2 separate regions of the Homo sapiens genome follow, and region 2 is linked to region 1. Evidence: fine-mapped expression QTL. A gene starts in region 1. The other region holds a variant in brackets. All regions are shown on one strand. Distances are between the middles of the regions.

What was found. PIP is the estimated chance that this variant, and not a neighbour inherited with it, causes the effect.
Region 2: its variant is fine-mapped to the expression of REXO5 in T cells (TOPMed, PIP 0.93).

The regions. Positions count from the first base shown.
Region 1 is chr16:20,801,981-20,810,312 of GRCh38, reverse strand. It overlaps REXO5 (RNA exonuclease 5), which reads right to left and starts at 3,786. Exons shown (of 20, transcript NM_030941.3): 1 at 3,608-3,786; 2 at 3,222-3,361. The coding sequence starts at 3,359. It overlaps ERI2 (ERI1 exoribonuclease family member 2), which reads left to right and starts at 3,841. Exons shown (of 9, transcript NM_001142725.2): 1 at 3,841-3,905; 2 at 6,643-6,710; 3 at 6,797-6,880; 4 at 7,390-7,517. The coding sequence starts at 3,883. RefSeq lists enhancers at 2,982-3,121, 3,842-3,951, 3,700-4,645.
Region 2 is chr16:20,433,462-20,441,793 of GRCh38, reverse strand. It overlaps ACSM5 (acyl-CoA synthetase medium chain family member 5), which reads right to left. Exons shown (of 14, transcript NM_017888.3): 11 at 4,615-4,742; 12 at 4,427-4,526; 13 at 1,875-1,994; 14 at 458-1,450. The coding sequence ends at 1,367. It overlaps LOC105371119 (a long non-coding RNA gene), which reads left to right. Exons shown (of 4, transcript XR_007065019.1): 4 at 208-401. Among named protein-coding and RNA genes, the nearest start is that of ACSM2A, 14 kb to the left of the region's middle. The variant C/T (reference allele first, on the strand shown) is at 4,466.

The sequences.
Region 1 (8,332 bases):
ATATTTAAATGTAAGTATGTGTGTGTGTATACACTTTCAACTTACAAAATTTTCAATTTACGATGGATTTATTGGGACGTAATCTTATTTTAAGTGAAGAAGCATCTGTATTAACATCACCATAGCACCCAAATCTAAATATCATTCTACACTAAAAAGAACCAGGTACCCTAAGAGAAATGACTGATTCCAGGCTTGGGGCAGGGAAAGCACATATGAGCCTGGAATATCTTCTTGTGCCAGAAAGTAATGACATGCTCAAAGAATGATGTTGTCATGTCAAAAGGCCACAGAAGCTAGCTTAATGACAAAATCTTGGATATTTAAAGCATCACAATCCAGTAAAAGATAGTAACACACTGAACAAAATAGGTACCACTGAGTTCATCATACTGATAAAAAAGTAAATGCATAAGCCCAAAGTGTTTGAGGAAGCACATTACAGACAGCTGGGAGCAGTGGCTTGGGCCTGTAACCTCAGCTACACTGAGGCTGAGGTGGGAGGATTGCTTTAGCCCAGGAATTCCAGACTAGCCTGGGCAATATAGCAAGATCCTGTCTCAAAAAAATAAGAATGAAAATTACACAGAGAAAAAGATAACTTTAGAGAACTTTAGTAGAAACTATCTTAATCTAGTTATCAAGGTTAATATCACCAATAATGGGACAAATCAAATTGTGTACAATCTGCAAGGGAGCAGAGTATCACTCCTGTGATATTCCTGCTAAAGATGTATATAACCTGAATCTAATCAATGAAGAAACAGACAAATCTAATTTAAGGGACATTCAACAAAATAATTGGCCCAGGATTATTCAAATGCAGTAAAGTCATGAATATCAAGGGAAGACTAAGGAACTGTTTGATGGAGACATGACAATTAAATTTAACACAATTCTAGACTGGATCTTATTGCTAAAAAGCGTTATTCAAACAACTACAGAAAATTTGGATGGCATCTGAGGAGTAGATGGTCATGATATATCCATGGTAATTTCCAATTTTGATGGTTGCATTGTGATTATGTAGGTTTATAGAGAATATATAATAAAATATCTTGAGGGTGGGTAGAAAAAGACCATTGTGTCAGCAACTACTTTCAAATGTTGGTTGAGGGGAGGTTTTGATACTATTCTTACAACTTTTCTAAAAGTTTGAGATTGTTTCAACATAACAAAATATGTGATTGTCAATCTCCTTACACTAACCACATAAACATTAAACATTTTTTTGCAAATTTGATAGGCAAAAAAACTGGAATCCCACTTTAATAAAAAAAATTTTCAGCTGGGTGCAGTGGCTCACACATGTAATCCCCAGCACTATGGGAGGCTGAGGCAGGTGAATCTCCTGATCCCAGGAGTTGGAGACCCTGTCTCTCTTTAAAAAAAAACAAACGAAAAAAAAACAAAAAAAAGCAGTGGCTCATGCCTGTAATCCCAGAACTTGCAGAGGCCAAGGTGGACAGATCGCTTAAGTCCAGGAGTTCAAGACCAGCCTGGGCAACATGGCAAAACCCCGTCTCTACAAAAAAAAGAAAAATTAGCTGGCACAGTGGCACACATCTGTAGTCCCATCTAATTGGTGGAACTGAGGTGGGAGGATCACTTCAACCTGGGAGGCAAAAGTTGCAGTGAGCCAAATCCAGCCTGGGCAACAGAGGGAGACTCCACCTCAAAAAAAAAAAAAAAAAAAAAAATCACATCCCTAATCCCTCTCTCACATATTATAACTTATTTTTATCATTTGTCTCTGCCCACTAGAATATAAGACCTACTAGGGCAGTGAACTTGATTCACTGATGTACCCCAAGCACCTAGGTCAGTGCCCCAGCACATGGCAGACAATAAAAACCAATGAATAGCTGGGTGCAGTGGCTCATGCCTGTAAGAGGCAGAGACAGGAGGATCCTTGTCACACCACTGTAGTCCAGCCTGAGTCCAGCAGAGCAGAGACCCTGTCTCAAACACAAAAACAAACAAAAAAGCCCAATGAACGACTGAAGGGATGAATGAAGTATATTTAGTTCTCAGTAAATGGTAAGGATGATAGGGATAATCAGCCTTTTTATTCCCCTATTGCAGCGGTCCCCAACCGTTGGCACCAGGGACCGGTTTCGTGTTAGATAATCTTTCCACTGACTGGGAGAAGGGCTGGGGGGATGGTTTCGGGGTGATTCAAGTGCATTACATTTATCATTAGAGTCTCATAAGCAGCATGCCACCTAGGACCCTCGTATGCAAAGTTCACAATAGGGCTCACAATAGGTTTGGCACATTCCTATGAGAATCTAATGCCTAGGTGGAGCTCAGGGGGTAACGTTCTATCGGCCACCGCTCACCTCCTGCTGCTTTGTGGCCCGGTTCCTAACAGGCCAGCTGTGGACAGTGGGTTGGGGACCCCATGGACAGGCAGGTACTAGTCTGTGCACAGGGGGTTGGGGACCCCCGCCCTACTGGAATGTAAACTGCACGAGGGCAAGGAATTGTATTTTTGTGCCCCAGGATATCGATGAACATTCCTATTATGTACAGGCAGTTTTTTTTTTGTTTTGTTTTTTGTTTTTTTTTTTTAAGAGATGGGGTCCTTGCTATATTGCCCAGGCTGGTCTTGAATTCCTGGCCTCAAATGATGCTCCCGCCTTGGCCTCCCAAACTGCTGGGATTACAGGCGTGAGCCACTGCACCCGGCCCACCATCCCAGTTTTTTTTTTTTTTTTTTTTTTTCTGAGACGTGATTTCTTTCTTGTTGTCCAGGGTGGAGTGTAATGGCGTGGTCTTGGCTCATTGCAACCTCTGGTTCCTGGGTTCTAGCGATTCTCCTGCCTCAGCCTCCCAAGTAGGTGGGATTACAGTCACCCACTACCACGCCTGGCTAATTTTGTGTGTGTGTTTTTGGTAGAGACGGGGATTTCTCCATGTTGACAAGGCTGGTCTCGAACTCCTGACCTCGTGATCCGCCCGCCTCGGCCTCCCAAAGTGCTGGAATTACAGGCATGAGCCACCGCACTCGGCCGACTCACTATCCCAGTGACAGCCAATGACAGCCTTGTTGCAGGAAGGTGGTATTACACTCATTCCCATTTTAATGATCAGGGATCAGGTTCGGAGAGGCCAGGGCGGAGAGCCCGCCCGAATCCAGTGCCCCCGACGGCGGTTGGGCGAGGGTCCGGGAGCTCCAAACCGCCTAGGGCCGCCTGCTCGGGATCCCCGTTGCTCACCTTGGCCTCGGGCTGACTCTCCTCGAGATCCCAACCGGCTTTCATCGCCTCAGCTGCCCCGACCAGCTTATTTGGGGCCTGCCTGCTTTCCCTGACCTTCCTGGGGTGTCTCTCGGTCCCTTCCCTCTCTGGCTCCATGGCTGTGGAGAAAGATGAGGTAGAGCTGGGGAAACTCCAGCGCCCCTATTCCCCCGCGTGCCGCCTCCTAGCGGGAGAGCTACACGGGCTTGACAGCTTTCAACCTCCCTCGGATCCGCTTCTCAATTCAGTTTACCGAACTATCCCCGTTCCCCTAAAAAAGCGAAGGTGCCAACGATCTCCCCGTTCCGCGGACTGGACACCCGCGCCGCTCTAACCCAAACGGCTTTACCGTCCGCATCGGTTACCGGATTCTCAACGGTTCCCCAACGGCTACAACGGGCGTCTGCCTGGCAAAGAAGGAAGGTGCTGCCGAGCGGCTTCGCCGCCTAAAACCACTCCCCACGCCCCCTAGCCCGGGAAACGCAGAAGAGAAGACGGGCGGGGAGCAGAGGTTCTCCCCTCCTTAGCCACAGCTGCCAACAACAACCGCCCCTCAGCCTCGCGGGCTTTTTGAACGGACCGGAAGTAGAAGTCGAGCGACTTCCGGCAGCTGGACTTGGAAAAGCAAGGAGTGTCGGGAATGGCGACCAAGCGGCTCGCGCGGTACTCGAGGGAGTTCCGGGTCGGGGGCGGGTAGCTCCGGGTCCAGCGCTGGCGTTGGCCGCAGAGCAGGGCACGGCAGGTGGCATCTGCGGTGAGGGCCTCTATTCCCCGCAGCCCCGGCGTCTGCGACCTGCCCTCTCTGGCACGGTTGGAAAGGCGCCTCCCTGGACCTCGGTCTTCAGCCTTGGGCCACCTTCTACCCGAGGGTGACAGGAGCCCGAGGCGGACGAACCCTGGGGCCTTGACTGTGTGGCCTTGAGCCAGTGCCTGCCTATTTTAGGCCTTGGGAAACGACTGGACGTGACAGTGCCCTGCAGACTGGTTGGAGGTCTCAGGCAGGCCACACACTGAATCTGTCAAGGTGTTCAACCTGTTCGAAATGCTCGTTCCTCGGTGCTGTAAAGAAATAGAACTTAAACTTAAATTTAATTTATTTAGTAAGGCCATTTTTACTTCCTGCAGAAAGGGTACACTCGCCAGCAGTTTTGCCAGGAGAGTACACTGAACAAAGGAGACAGGGTCATTTATAACGTGGCGCGTCCACCCTACTGCTGTGTCCGGTTTCCTTTGGCTGGAACGGGACCTCACATTCTGTATTTGTCCCGACTGACTAGCAACATAGAACTTTTTAAAAGAGGCAAAGGCAGAGGAGAACAAAGGAAGAAGGAAGTAACTTGTGGAATGCTGAGAAAGGTAAAAACACTTTTAAGTAAGGAAGAGGAACAGGCTATGACCTAATGTTTGATTGGACCAGTATAAGCATGCCAGGGCAAATATTTAGGCTAAATTGTGGGAGCTAAGAACATAAAGTACATTGATTTCTTTATTATATCTAGCAGATATTTAAGAATGTTAGCACAGGTCTTTGAATAAATTTTGCTCTAAGAGAAGTTACTATTTATTCCTAATTAGACGGGGAAGGAAGTCTTTGAAGAGGAACCTCTACTTTTTACAAACCCATTTTCTAGTGATCTTTTTTTTTTTTTTTGAGACGGAGTTTTGTTGCCTAGGCTAGAGTGCAGTGGTGCGATCTCGGCTTACCATAACCTCTGCCTCCCGGGTTCAAGTCATTCTCCTGCCTCAGCCTCCCAAGTAGCTGGGATTACAGGCATGCACCACCACACCCAGCTAATTTTGTATTTTTAGTAGAAATGGGGTTTCTCTATGTTGGTCAGACTGTTCTCGAACTCCCGACCTCAGGTGATCCACCCGCCTCAACCTCCCAAAGTGCTGGGGTTACAGGTGTGAGCCACGGTGCCTGGCCTAGTGATCCTTTTAATTCACAATATGAATTATTGTGTCCTCCCTGATTCCTGGATGCGCTGTGCATATTTCTGATTACTAGAAAGATGTAATATAATAGCAAATAGCATGAGCTTCAGAATTGGACAGTCTTGGGTTCACATACCAAAGCTATGTTCTTTGGCAAATTAAGAATCAGTTTTCTCATCCATAAAATATAGGTAGGAAAAGTTTCTAGCTACTACACTTGTTGAGGATTAAAGGAGGCCATCATCTTAGTTTAATTTTAGTACCTGCTATGTAGTAAGCAGTCAATAAATGATATTTATTATTCCCAAATCCTGGCACTTCCCACTCTTAGCAAACACAGAAAACTACAGGAGGTGTCTGCCTAGTTAAAACTCTACCTGCTAATACCAAGTAGTTTGTTTTACTTGCACTTAAGACCTCAGTAAGCTCTTCTCTTTTTTTCTTATTTTATTTTATTTATTTATTTTTTTGAGACAGGGTCTCGCTCTGTTGCCCATGCTGGAGTGCAGTGGCATGATCTCGGCTCACTGCAGTCTCCACCTCCCGGGCTCAAGCAATCCTCCCACCTTAGCCTCCTGAGTAGTTGGGACTACAGGTATGCACCATCACGCCCCAGCTAGGTTTTATAATTTTTGTAGAGACGGGGTTTCACCATGTTGCTCAGGCTGGTCTCGAACTCCGGAGCTCAAGCAATCCACCTGCCTTGGCCTCCCAAAGTGCTGGGATTACAGGCATGAGCCACTTTACCTGGCCCTATCTTTTGTTTCTTTACCCAGATTTTTAAACTGGAAGACTGAACCATGTCCTACATTGTCTTGTCTTCTTAAAACTGCACTGTACACATAGCAAGAGCTTAAAAAATGCAGGGGGAAAAATAAGATTTTCAGTGCATTTTTACCTCTACAATCAAATGATTGTAGGAACTCAAATGAGTTACTCAGTATTACTGTAAAACAAGGGTAACATAAAATTAGTGTAAATTGGCTGGACACAGTGGCTCAGGCCTGTAATCCCAGCACTTTGAGGGGCTGAGGTGGGAGGATTGCTGGAGCTCAGGAGTTCGAGATGAGCCTGGGTAACATAGTGAGGCCCTGCCTTCAAAAAAAAAAAAAAATTAAAACTAATGGGCCGTGGTGGCATGCATCTGTAGTCTTAGTCAGGAGACTGTGGTGGGAGGATTGCTTGAGCCCAGGAGATTAAGGCTGTAGTGAGTGGTGATCATACCACTGCACTGCAACCTACGTGACAGAGCAAGACCCTGTCTCAAAAACAAAACCAACAAATTAGCCTAATTTGCAAATATGTACTTTCGAGGCCTGTGCAGGTAAAGCCAAAGTCCAGTTCGATTTCCCCTCAGTCACAATAAATAATGAGATTGTTGCCCAGTACCATTAGTTTGGTAGCCTACTCAAACAGGAGTGTGAATGAGTTCATTGATCATATTTGGATTGCTTCACATTTTTAGGCAGCTTGGATTAATTAGGAGAAAGTCAATTGCGCCAGCAAATGGAAATCTCGGAAGAAGCAAATCCAGTGAGTAGTATGCTTAGTTTCTTTGCATTTTGTAGCCTTGCATTTTCAGCACTGGTAAAGCATAAGAACAACTTGATCTTTTGCAGAGCAGTTGTTTGACTACTTAATTGTCATTGATTTTGAATCGACATGCTGGAATGATGGGAAGCACCACCATAGCCAGGAAATAAGTAAGTCTGGGCTACGAATGGCCAAAGCTGGCACTAGATGAGTCACTTTAAAGTTTATAGATCTGAATCAGCCAAAAGTTTAAGAAAACAGGATGGTCTATGCATTGGTAGTTTAATGCAAAACTTATGTTGAATAAAAAAGAGCAAAATCTCAAATACCTAAATGTGTTATTATATAAAATAGTTGTTTTATATTACATACAACACCTCAATGGCATAGAAACTGAAAAAAATGCCTTTGCAAAAAAAGTAAATTTTATATTCCATATGGTTTTTATATTTATTTAATTATATTGTTTTCTTTTAAGACAACATGCTCATAACTTCAATATTTTGACTTTAGCATAACTTTATTATAACCTTTATGTCACACTGCTTTGGTCATTTTAGTATGCTTTTACTGAAAACTGGTTGTTTAATTAAAATGGTAACATGTTTAATTTAGGATGATTACAGGATTAATTTAAAAATTATTTATTCAACTGTCAATTGATTATTCTTTCATTTAGTTGAGTTTCCAGCAGTGTTGCTGAACACATCAACTGGACAGATTGACTCTGAGTTCCAGGCTTATGTTCAACCTCAGGAACATCCAATTCTTTCAGAATTTTGCATGGAATTGACAGGCATAAAGCAGGTATGATGCAAATCTTAAAATTCAGAAGTCAGTTTCAAAAAGAAAATAAAAGTTATTATACCATTTGAAATTAGATTTATTTAGTGTTAGGCATGATGGCTTATGCCTGTAATCCCAGCACTTTGCAGGCTGATGTTCGAGAATTGCTTGAGGCCAGGAGTTTGAGACCAACCTAGACAACATAGTGAGAACCCCATCTCTAAAAAAAAAAAAAAAAAAAATTTAAATTAGCCTGACTTGGTGGCATGTGTCTGTAGTCCCAGCTTCTTGGGAGGCTGAGGCTGAGGTGGGAGGACCACTTGAGCCCAGGAGTTTGAGGCTGCAGGGAGGTATAATCTCAGTCTATCCTGGGTGACAGACTTTGTCTCTGAAAATAAATGAATAAATAAGTAAATAAATAAATAAGATTAGTGTTATTCCAGATTCAGGACTCGATTTATGTATTTATTTATTTATTTTTCAGACAAAGGCATGCTCTGTTGGCCAGGCTGGAGTAAGGTGGCGGGGCTCACTGCAACCTCTGCTTCCTGGGTTCAGGCGATTCTCATGCCTCAGCTTCCTGAGTAACTGGGACTATAGGTACACACCACCACATCTGGCTAATTTTTATATTTTTAATAGAGACAGGGTTTCACTATGTTGGCCAGGCTGGTCTCGAACTCCTGACCTCAAGTGATCTGCCCACCTTGGCCTCCCGAGGTGCTGGGATTACAGGCGTGAGTCACCTCAGGACTCGATTTAAAAAGCAAAGGAACATACCTGTAATCTCAGTACTTTGGGAGGCCAAGGTGGGTGGATCATCTGAGGTCAGGAGT
Region 2 (8,332 bases), 370 kb after region 1:
GACTAAGAAAATCTGCCCTCACCCACGTGGGCAGGCATCATCCAATCCATTAGGGCATGAAGAGGAGAAAAAGGAGAAAAGAGGAATTTGCTCCTTCCTTTTGGGCTAGAACATCTGTGTTTTCTTGTCCTCAGACGGTGAAGCTCCTGGTTCTCGATCCTTTGCACTCGGACAGGGAGTTATAACATTGGCTCTTCTGGTTTTCAGGTCTTTGGACTCAGATGGAATTATACCACGGGGTTTCCTGGGTCTCCAGCATGCAGATGGCAGATTGTGGAACTTCTCAGCCTCCAAAATCGAGTGAGCCAATTCCCATCATAAATCCCCTCTCCTGTGTCTAAATATGTCCTATTGCTTCTCTTTCTCTGGAGAATGCTGACTAATACAGACATAATACAGCAGTCTTTGGGGATGATGTATGAGTATGTGGAGGAAGAACTAGACATGAAGCAGAGTGTGCTTTCTTTAACATAACTTTTTCATTAAAATAGTTGTATGTGCTTCGTACAAAAACTTGGAAAATACAGAAATGTAATGGAAAAAGGAAGAAGAAAAACTACCATCCATTATTTTCTCTCCCTCCCTCCTCAATCTCCAGGAGGATTACAATTAACCACAGTTTTCCCTTTATTTTTCAGAGTTGGGATTCTCCAGTATGAATATTTTTGCTCTGATTTTTAAAATTAATATAGCTTACACTTTTCCCAAGACATACTAAACTGCTCTCAAATATTTTAGTGGCTACATCATATGTAATTGAGTTAATCTACTACAATTTTGTTAATCATTTCCTTGTTGTTTGGATGTTAATTGTTAATTTTTTCTTTTTTTTTTTTAGTTTTAATGCTGTGTGATCATCTTAGTGCACCACACATTTTCTGCATTTTGATTTTTTTCTTTTGTGGTGACTCCCGAAGATAGAATTTCTGAGCTAAAGGATATTTTATTTTATGTTCCTGCATACTTTTGCCAAATGGTTACATACAAAGGATGAAGCCTTTACATTCCCACTGGCAGAAAATGAGTACCCACAAGTGCCCCAAGTCTATGGTAACCTGTCCTATGGAGGGAAATCTGAAAGCTCTTAGTGAGACCAGTGGGCAGATGCTGAGCCTGCCCCCAGACAGAGGGAGAAGTCGAACCACCAAGCATTTGCTAGGCGGCGCAGCATCTATGTGATCAGGGCCAATGATATTCTTTTGCTCTTTCCAGCATTGCCCAGTGATCCTGGGGATGCCGTTTGGAAGCTGCACACCTTTGACATCTTTAGGGTCGAAGAGATGATGCTCCCCATGGGGACTGACCAGTGATCCATTAGTTTCTTGTGGAGTCTTCGGAGGTCTACGGGGCCTTCCTGGGGTGCACCTCATTTCCCCCACTCCTGACTTCGCAATTTACTCCTTTGGATCTTTCCAGAAACCGTCTTTGGCAGTTCTGAAACAAAGGCCACCTAGTGACCAAACACAAAACAAAAAACACTTGGAAATCATCATTTCTCAAAAAGACTTTTGTTTTGAAAGAGACAATACTGTCTGCCTGTCCTTGGAAAGCGTCCCTGATTCAGGGTTTCCCCCTAAATGGCCAGAAGCAAAACAGCTGGAGCCTGGAGCACAGGATCATTTTGACAGCATTTGAGCACTACCTCTTGTATCTGATTTGTGGTAGGGATCAGGCTGTTCTTAGAGTAGGAACAAAATGTGCTTTGGGGAGAATCCAAGTGAAGAAATACAGAAAAAAGCTGAAGCAGCAGCCAGGGTTACAAGTTTCTCCATATCCCCAGTGCCTGGCACAGGGCCTGGCTCTGAGTGGGAGCCCAGGCAGAGCGTGCCCATCTGATTCCCAGATCACTGTGCCCTGGAAACCCTGATATTTACCTTCCTGGGGTATTTGTATGGAGCAGTCACCCTTTTCACATGCTCCTGGAGTTCCCGCGTTAGTGCCTCTGGGTCATGAGAGGAGTAGGCTGGAGTAAGGACTATAAATGCCTTTACCACCTGCAGGAAAACAAAATACCCAGAAAAGATCAGGCCTCGTATAACAACTCTTTTCTCCTTAAGTGAGGCTTGAATAAGTGCCTACATTTACCTTTGCACCATGAAAGTTCTACTAGTTTTTTTTGGGCACAGCCAATGACACAAACAACATCAATTTTTCTTTTGCTGGCCCTTCCAGGTGTGACTATTAGGAGGATTGACCTTTCTGGGATGATTTCAAACTCCTACCTCTTTCTCAAATTACTCCCCATACTTGGAATGACACCATTTGAAGCCAACATCGCTTCTCTTAAGAAGCAAATATTTTGGAGAAAAGAGGTTCATAAACTCCTAGGGCCATTTTCTTCCAGATTTTCCTAATGAGAAAGGTAGGTAGGCATGAGTTTGAACAGGTGGGATTGAGGAAAATGCAGGCACTTGCAAGGGGAACTAGGTCTTTGGGGGTCTGCGTGGATGAACATTTGCAATCAGCAGACCCTGAACTGCACCACTTCTGTTCCAGACATCCCGAGGGACATTCTGCATCTTGGGTCTCTCTGCCCACAACTTTCCTGCAGGCTGTCTTATGCCAGGCAGGAGGAAGTGTCCCAGACTCAAGCACAACAAACATAGTTTCTGTTAGGAATGGAAGGTCACTTGGATGCTTATTAATTCCAGCATTCCTATCTGTTAACAGTATTCTATTAAAGGGGTAGCTCACTGTCCTTGCATACTTCCCACAGGGAGGAAGGCCACTATCATTTCATGTTCAGACAGATATGCTTTTAGAAAGAGCTTCCTCTTACTCTTACTACTGTAACTACGAAACATTTGTTGGACACTTTTTTTTTTTTTTTTTTTTTTTTAAGACAGAGTCTCACCCTGTCGCCCAGGCTGGAGCTCAGTGAGGTGATCTCGGCTCACTGCAAGCTCTGCCTCCTGGGTTCACGCCATTCTCCTGCCTCAGCCTCCCGAGTAGCTGGGATTATAGGCGCCCACCGCCACGCCTGGCTAATTTTTAGTATTTTTAGTAGAGATGGGGTTTCACTGTGTTAGCCAGGATGATCTCGATCTCCTGACCTCGTGATCCACCCGCCTCGGCCTCCCAAAGTGCTGGGATTACAGACATGAGCCACCGTGTCCGGCTTATGTGTTGGGCACTTTCTACACACCAGACTCAGTTCTAAGCACCATACATGGATTAAGTTTGAGCACACAGCCATTTGTCACAGTCCCAGTTAACTCACGGCATGCAGAACTAGGCATACGTTTGAGGTATGATTTCTTCAGCACATCAATGGGACTCCACACCTCCCTTATTATACATTAATGGCTTTGGATTTTAGAGGGGAATCACTTGGCCAAGAATGGCTGGCTAAAATGCAGATTCTCTGGGCTGCATTCCCAGTAATCATGATTTGGTAAGTCTGACTTTAGGTCTACAAATCTATATTTTAAACAAGAATCTCAGATGATACAGTTGCAAGCAGTCCAAGAACCAGACTTTGAGAATCTCTCCTGTGGTCTTGATGCTTCTGAGAATGCAGGCTAATGTTGCACTAACTTTCAAAAGGTAACTGTTGTGCTTTAGGATTATGTTGGATGTAAGCCAGTGAAAAGTACCTAAGTCTGCCTGTTAGCTGATCTTTCCCATAATATGCATTCCTCTGGGACCCACAGAAAGATTTCTCCTAGCCGGGCACGGTGACTCACGCCTGTAATCCCAGCACTTTGGGAGCCGGGGTGGGTGGATCACCTAAGGTCAGGAGTTTAAGACCTCCAGCCTGGCCAACAAGGCAAAACCCTGTCTCTACTAAAAATACAAAAATTAGCCAGGTGTGGTGACATGTGCCTGTAATCCCAGCTACTGGGGGGGGTGCTGGGGCAGGAAGATCACTTGAACCTGGGAGGCGGAGGTTGCAGTGAGCCAAGATCATGCCACTGCACTTCAGCCTGGACAACACAGCAAGACTCCATCTCAAAAAAAAAAAAGGATTTCTCCTATGAAAGCCCAGCTTATTAAATTTGGCCCATCTTTCTGGTATATGTAGGTCATTTTGGATACATATTCTATCCCTCTTAGGTTACAGCCATCAGCAACTATTACTGGTGTGCTTGCTATGTCCTCATCTGCAAATAGAAAAGACTTTTTATTAGACAGGATGGATAACAGAGCCTGCACCTCCCCCAAGATCTCCTGCCCCATAGCCAGCCTCTCTGGGATGTAGTTGTGTCCATTTAAAAGCAAAGTGTTGGTGTTTTCCCATTATGTCCCTTTAGAGAGTAATTGTATCTCTAAAGACATGAAGGCAACGTGTGTCTGATGGTGGCATTTCAACTTTGTGGCACAAGGATGGAGGTGAAATACAGGACAATCTGAGCCTTCCTGCTTGTTCTGCTGGGTGCTAATAGGTACAGAAGCAGGAGGCCATGTTCTTGGGTGCACTGGTTACCTCTCCCCTGATGGGGTCTGGGCTGCTGACCACAGCCGA[C/T]TCCAGGACAGCAGGATGCTCTGCCAGGGCACTTTCCACTTCAACAGGCCCGATCCGGTAGCTGGAAGGGAAAAACAAACTCTTCCAAGTGGGCTTCCCTCAACCCCCATGAAATTTCAAAGGAAGGAGGAAAGTGCAGACAGCTTGACCTTGAAGAATTGATCACATCGTCGTTTCTTCCCATGAACCAAAAGTAGCCATCCTTGTCCATGCGAGCTCGGTCCCCTGTGATGTAAAAGTCCCCTTGTTCTGATGCAGCTGTCTTCTCAGGATTGTCCTGAAAGACAAAGACAACCCGTGAAGGACCCTCTGGGAACAACTGCTAAGGCCAGTTACTGCCCCAGTAGCCCCCTGTAGGAAGCTGGAGACCACTCAACAGAAAGTTCAGCAGTTCCTAAAGTCCCGGCTGCCCAGAGTTCCCCAATGGACAGGGAGTTATGGCCCTGTTTAGTTGTGGGATTTCCCTCTTTTGATTGGAATCAAGCTGCCAGCCAATGGTTAAGGGCAGTCACCCACCACCATCCTTAGAAGGGGGTCTAGAAAGCATAGTTGAAAGCAGGAGGGTGGGCACAGGGCCACTGGCTGTGGTTTTTAGGACAAGAGAACACATGAATACTCTTTGTGCTCAGGAATCACTGAGGGTAGAAAGTGAAGGGCTAGGCCGGGTGTGGTGGCTCATCCCTATAATCCCAGCACTGTGGGAGGCTGAGGTGGGTGGATCACTTGAGGTCTGGAATTCGAGACCAGCTGGCCAACATAGTGAAAACCTGTCTCTACTAAAGACAAAAAAATTAGCTGGGTGTGGTGGTGCATGCCTGTAATTCCAGCTACTCGGGAGGCTGAGGCAGGCGAATTGCTTAAACCTGGGAGGCAGAGGTTGCAGTGAGCTGAGATTGTGCCACTGCACTCCAGCCTGGGCTATAGGGCGAGGCTGTGAGATTGCACCACTGCACTCAAGCCTGGGCTACAGGATGAGATTGCAAGATTGTGCCACTGCACTGCAGCCTGGGCTACAGGGCAAGACTTCAAGTAGGAAACAAAGGAAAGGAAGGGGAGGGGAGGGGACGGGAGGGGAGGGGAGAGGAGAGTGGGGAGGGAAGGGAAGGGAAGAGAAGGGAAGAGAAGGAAGAAAAGAAAGAGAGAAGAAAAGGGAGGGAGGAAAGGAGGAAGGGAGGGAGGGAAGAAGGAAAAGAAAGGAAGGAAGGAAAGAAAGAGAAAAAGAAAGAAAGAAAGAGAAAAGGAAGGAAGGAAGAAGAAGGAATGAAGGAAAAGAGAAAGAAAGAGAAAGAAAGAAAAAGAAAGAAAGAATGAAGAAAAAAGAAAGAAAGAGAAAGAAAAGAAAGAAAGAAAAAAGGAAGGAAGAAAGAAGGAAAGAAGGAAGGAAGGAAGGAAAGAAAAGAAAGAAAGAAAGAAAGGGAGGGTGGGAGAAGGGCTCACCAAAAAGCTCATTGGTGTGGGGCAAGAGTAGAGGAAAGAGAAAAACAATGAAACTCTGATTCTCAAAGTTTCAAAGAAAAAGCTACTACTCAGCAATAAAAATACATGAAACCACACAGATGACTTGCAGAAACATCATACTGAGTAAAAGAACCCAGACAGATAAACTGGAATAGTTTGTGATTCCATTTACATGAAGTTCTTTTTTAAAAATGCAAAATTATTATATACTGACGACAAACAATGTATCAATCGCTGGGTCTGGAGTGGAGAGGATTGCCTGTCAAGGGAGTGAAAAATGTTCCCTATTCGACTGTGGTGGCAGTTACACAGGGGCGGACATGTGTTAAAAGTCATTGACTTACACACTTAACGTGGGTGAATTTTACTGTAGGTAAATTATATCTCAATTCAACAAGGACCTTCTGAGAAAAAAGAAAAAATATAAGCTACCCTAAAAATACATCTAACACAAAATCTCTGAGATGTGTATGGAGAAAACTTAAAACTCTACACAACATTAAAGAAGATATAAATAAAGTGAAAGAAAGACTTAATCGGCCTGGTGCAGTGGCTCATGCCTATAATCCCAGCACTTCGGGAGGCCAAGGCAGGTGGATCACCTGAGGTCAGAAGTTCAAGACCAGCCTGGCCAACATGGAGAAACCCCATCTCTACTAAAAATACAAAAACTAGCCAGGTGTGGCGGCAGGCGCCTGTAATCCCAGCTACTTGGGAGGCTGAGGCAGGAGAATCACTTGAACCCGAGAGGCGGAGGCTGCAGTGAGCCAAGATCACACCACTGCACTCCAGCCTGGGTGACAGAGCAAGACTCTGCCTCAAAACAAAACAAAACAAAAAAGACTTAATTAATAGAGATGTCAATTATCCCTAAGTTGTTTTATAGGCAATACAATTCTAATCAAAATGCTAGCAAACATTTTCCAAGGAACTTGACAAGTTGATTCTAAAATACAAATGAATGAGCAAAGGGCTAAGAATAGGTAAAACACTTCTAAATGAGTTGAATAACAAGGTTAGAGTTGTTCTCCCACATGTGAAGACTTATGGTAATGCTTTTGTGGATAAGACTTTATGGTATCAGTACAGAGACAGAGTAAGTGATCAAGGAAATACAAGAAAGTGCCAAAGCCTATGTATGACTATATCAAACTTTTAAAAAATGATTTATTTATTTGAGATGGAGTCCCACTCTATTGCCCAGGCTGGAGTGCAGTGGTGTGATCTCAGCTCACTGCAACCTCTGCCTCCCGGGTTCAAGCAATTCTCCTGTCTCAGCCTCCCAAGTAGCTGGGACTACAGGTGCCCGCCACCACACCCAGCTAATTTTTGTATTTTTAGTAGAGAGGGTGTTTCACCATATTGGTCAGGCTGGTCTCGAACTCCTGACCTCAGGTGATCCACCAGCCTTGGCCTCCCAAAGTGCTAGGATTACAGTCGTGAGCAACCACACCTGGCCTATATTAAACTTTTATATCTGACAAAATTAGCATGACAGATAACTGGGAAAAGGAGGATTTATTCAACAAATTGGCTTTTCATATAGAAAAAAATAAAATAGACCCCTATCTCATATCATGCATACATCAACCACAGATGGATTATAAACTTAAATGTCAAAAGCAGAATTATAAAACTATTGGAAGAAACTATTGAATATGTGTATTTTCTACCCTAAAGTTGAAAATGATTTTATAAGACACAAAAAGCACTATCCATAACATTTAAAAACTTAATGATTTGATGACATGGAAATAAATGCTTCTGTTCAACAAAAATAGCTTAAAGAAAGTGAAAGAAAGTGAAAAGATAAGCTACAACCAAGGAGGAAGATGTTAGCAACTCTTAAAACAAACAAAGGACCGATATCAAGAATATATTAAGAACTCCTATAGGCTGGGAGTGGTGGCTCATGCCTGTAATCATAGCATTTTGGTGGGCTGAGGCAGGTGGATCACTTGAGCCCAGGAATTCAAAACCAGCCTAGGCAACATGGTGAAACCCCATCTTTACAAAAAAAAAAAAAAAAATTAGCCAGGTGTGGTGGCATGTGCCTGTAGTTCCAGCTACTCAGGAGGCTGAGGTGGGAGGATCAGCTGAGCCCAGGAAGTCAAAGCTGCAGTGGCCATGATTGTGCCACTGCACTCCAGCCTTGGTGGCAGAAGGAGACCCTGCTTCCAAAAAAAAATTGTATTAAATAGTTGCATAATATTTCTGTGTGGTGGTGATATTATGCATTTGAACAAATTCCTGGATTCTTTTTTTAAAATTTTTTCTCTCTTCTTTTTCTCCTTTTCTTTTGTTTTTTTGCTTTTGTTCACAATGCTATAATATAATCCTTTACATAACTAATTTCTGATATTAGAAATTTAGATAGTCCCTCCACCTTTTTTATCTGTTATAAACAGC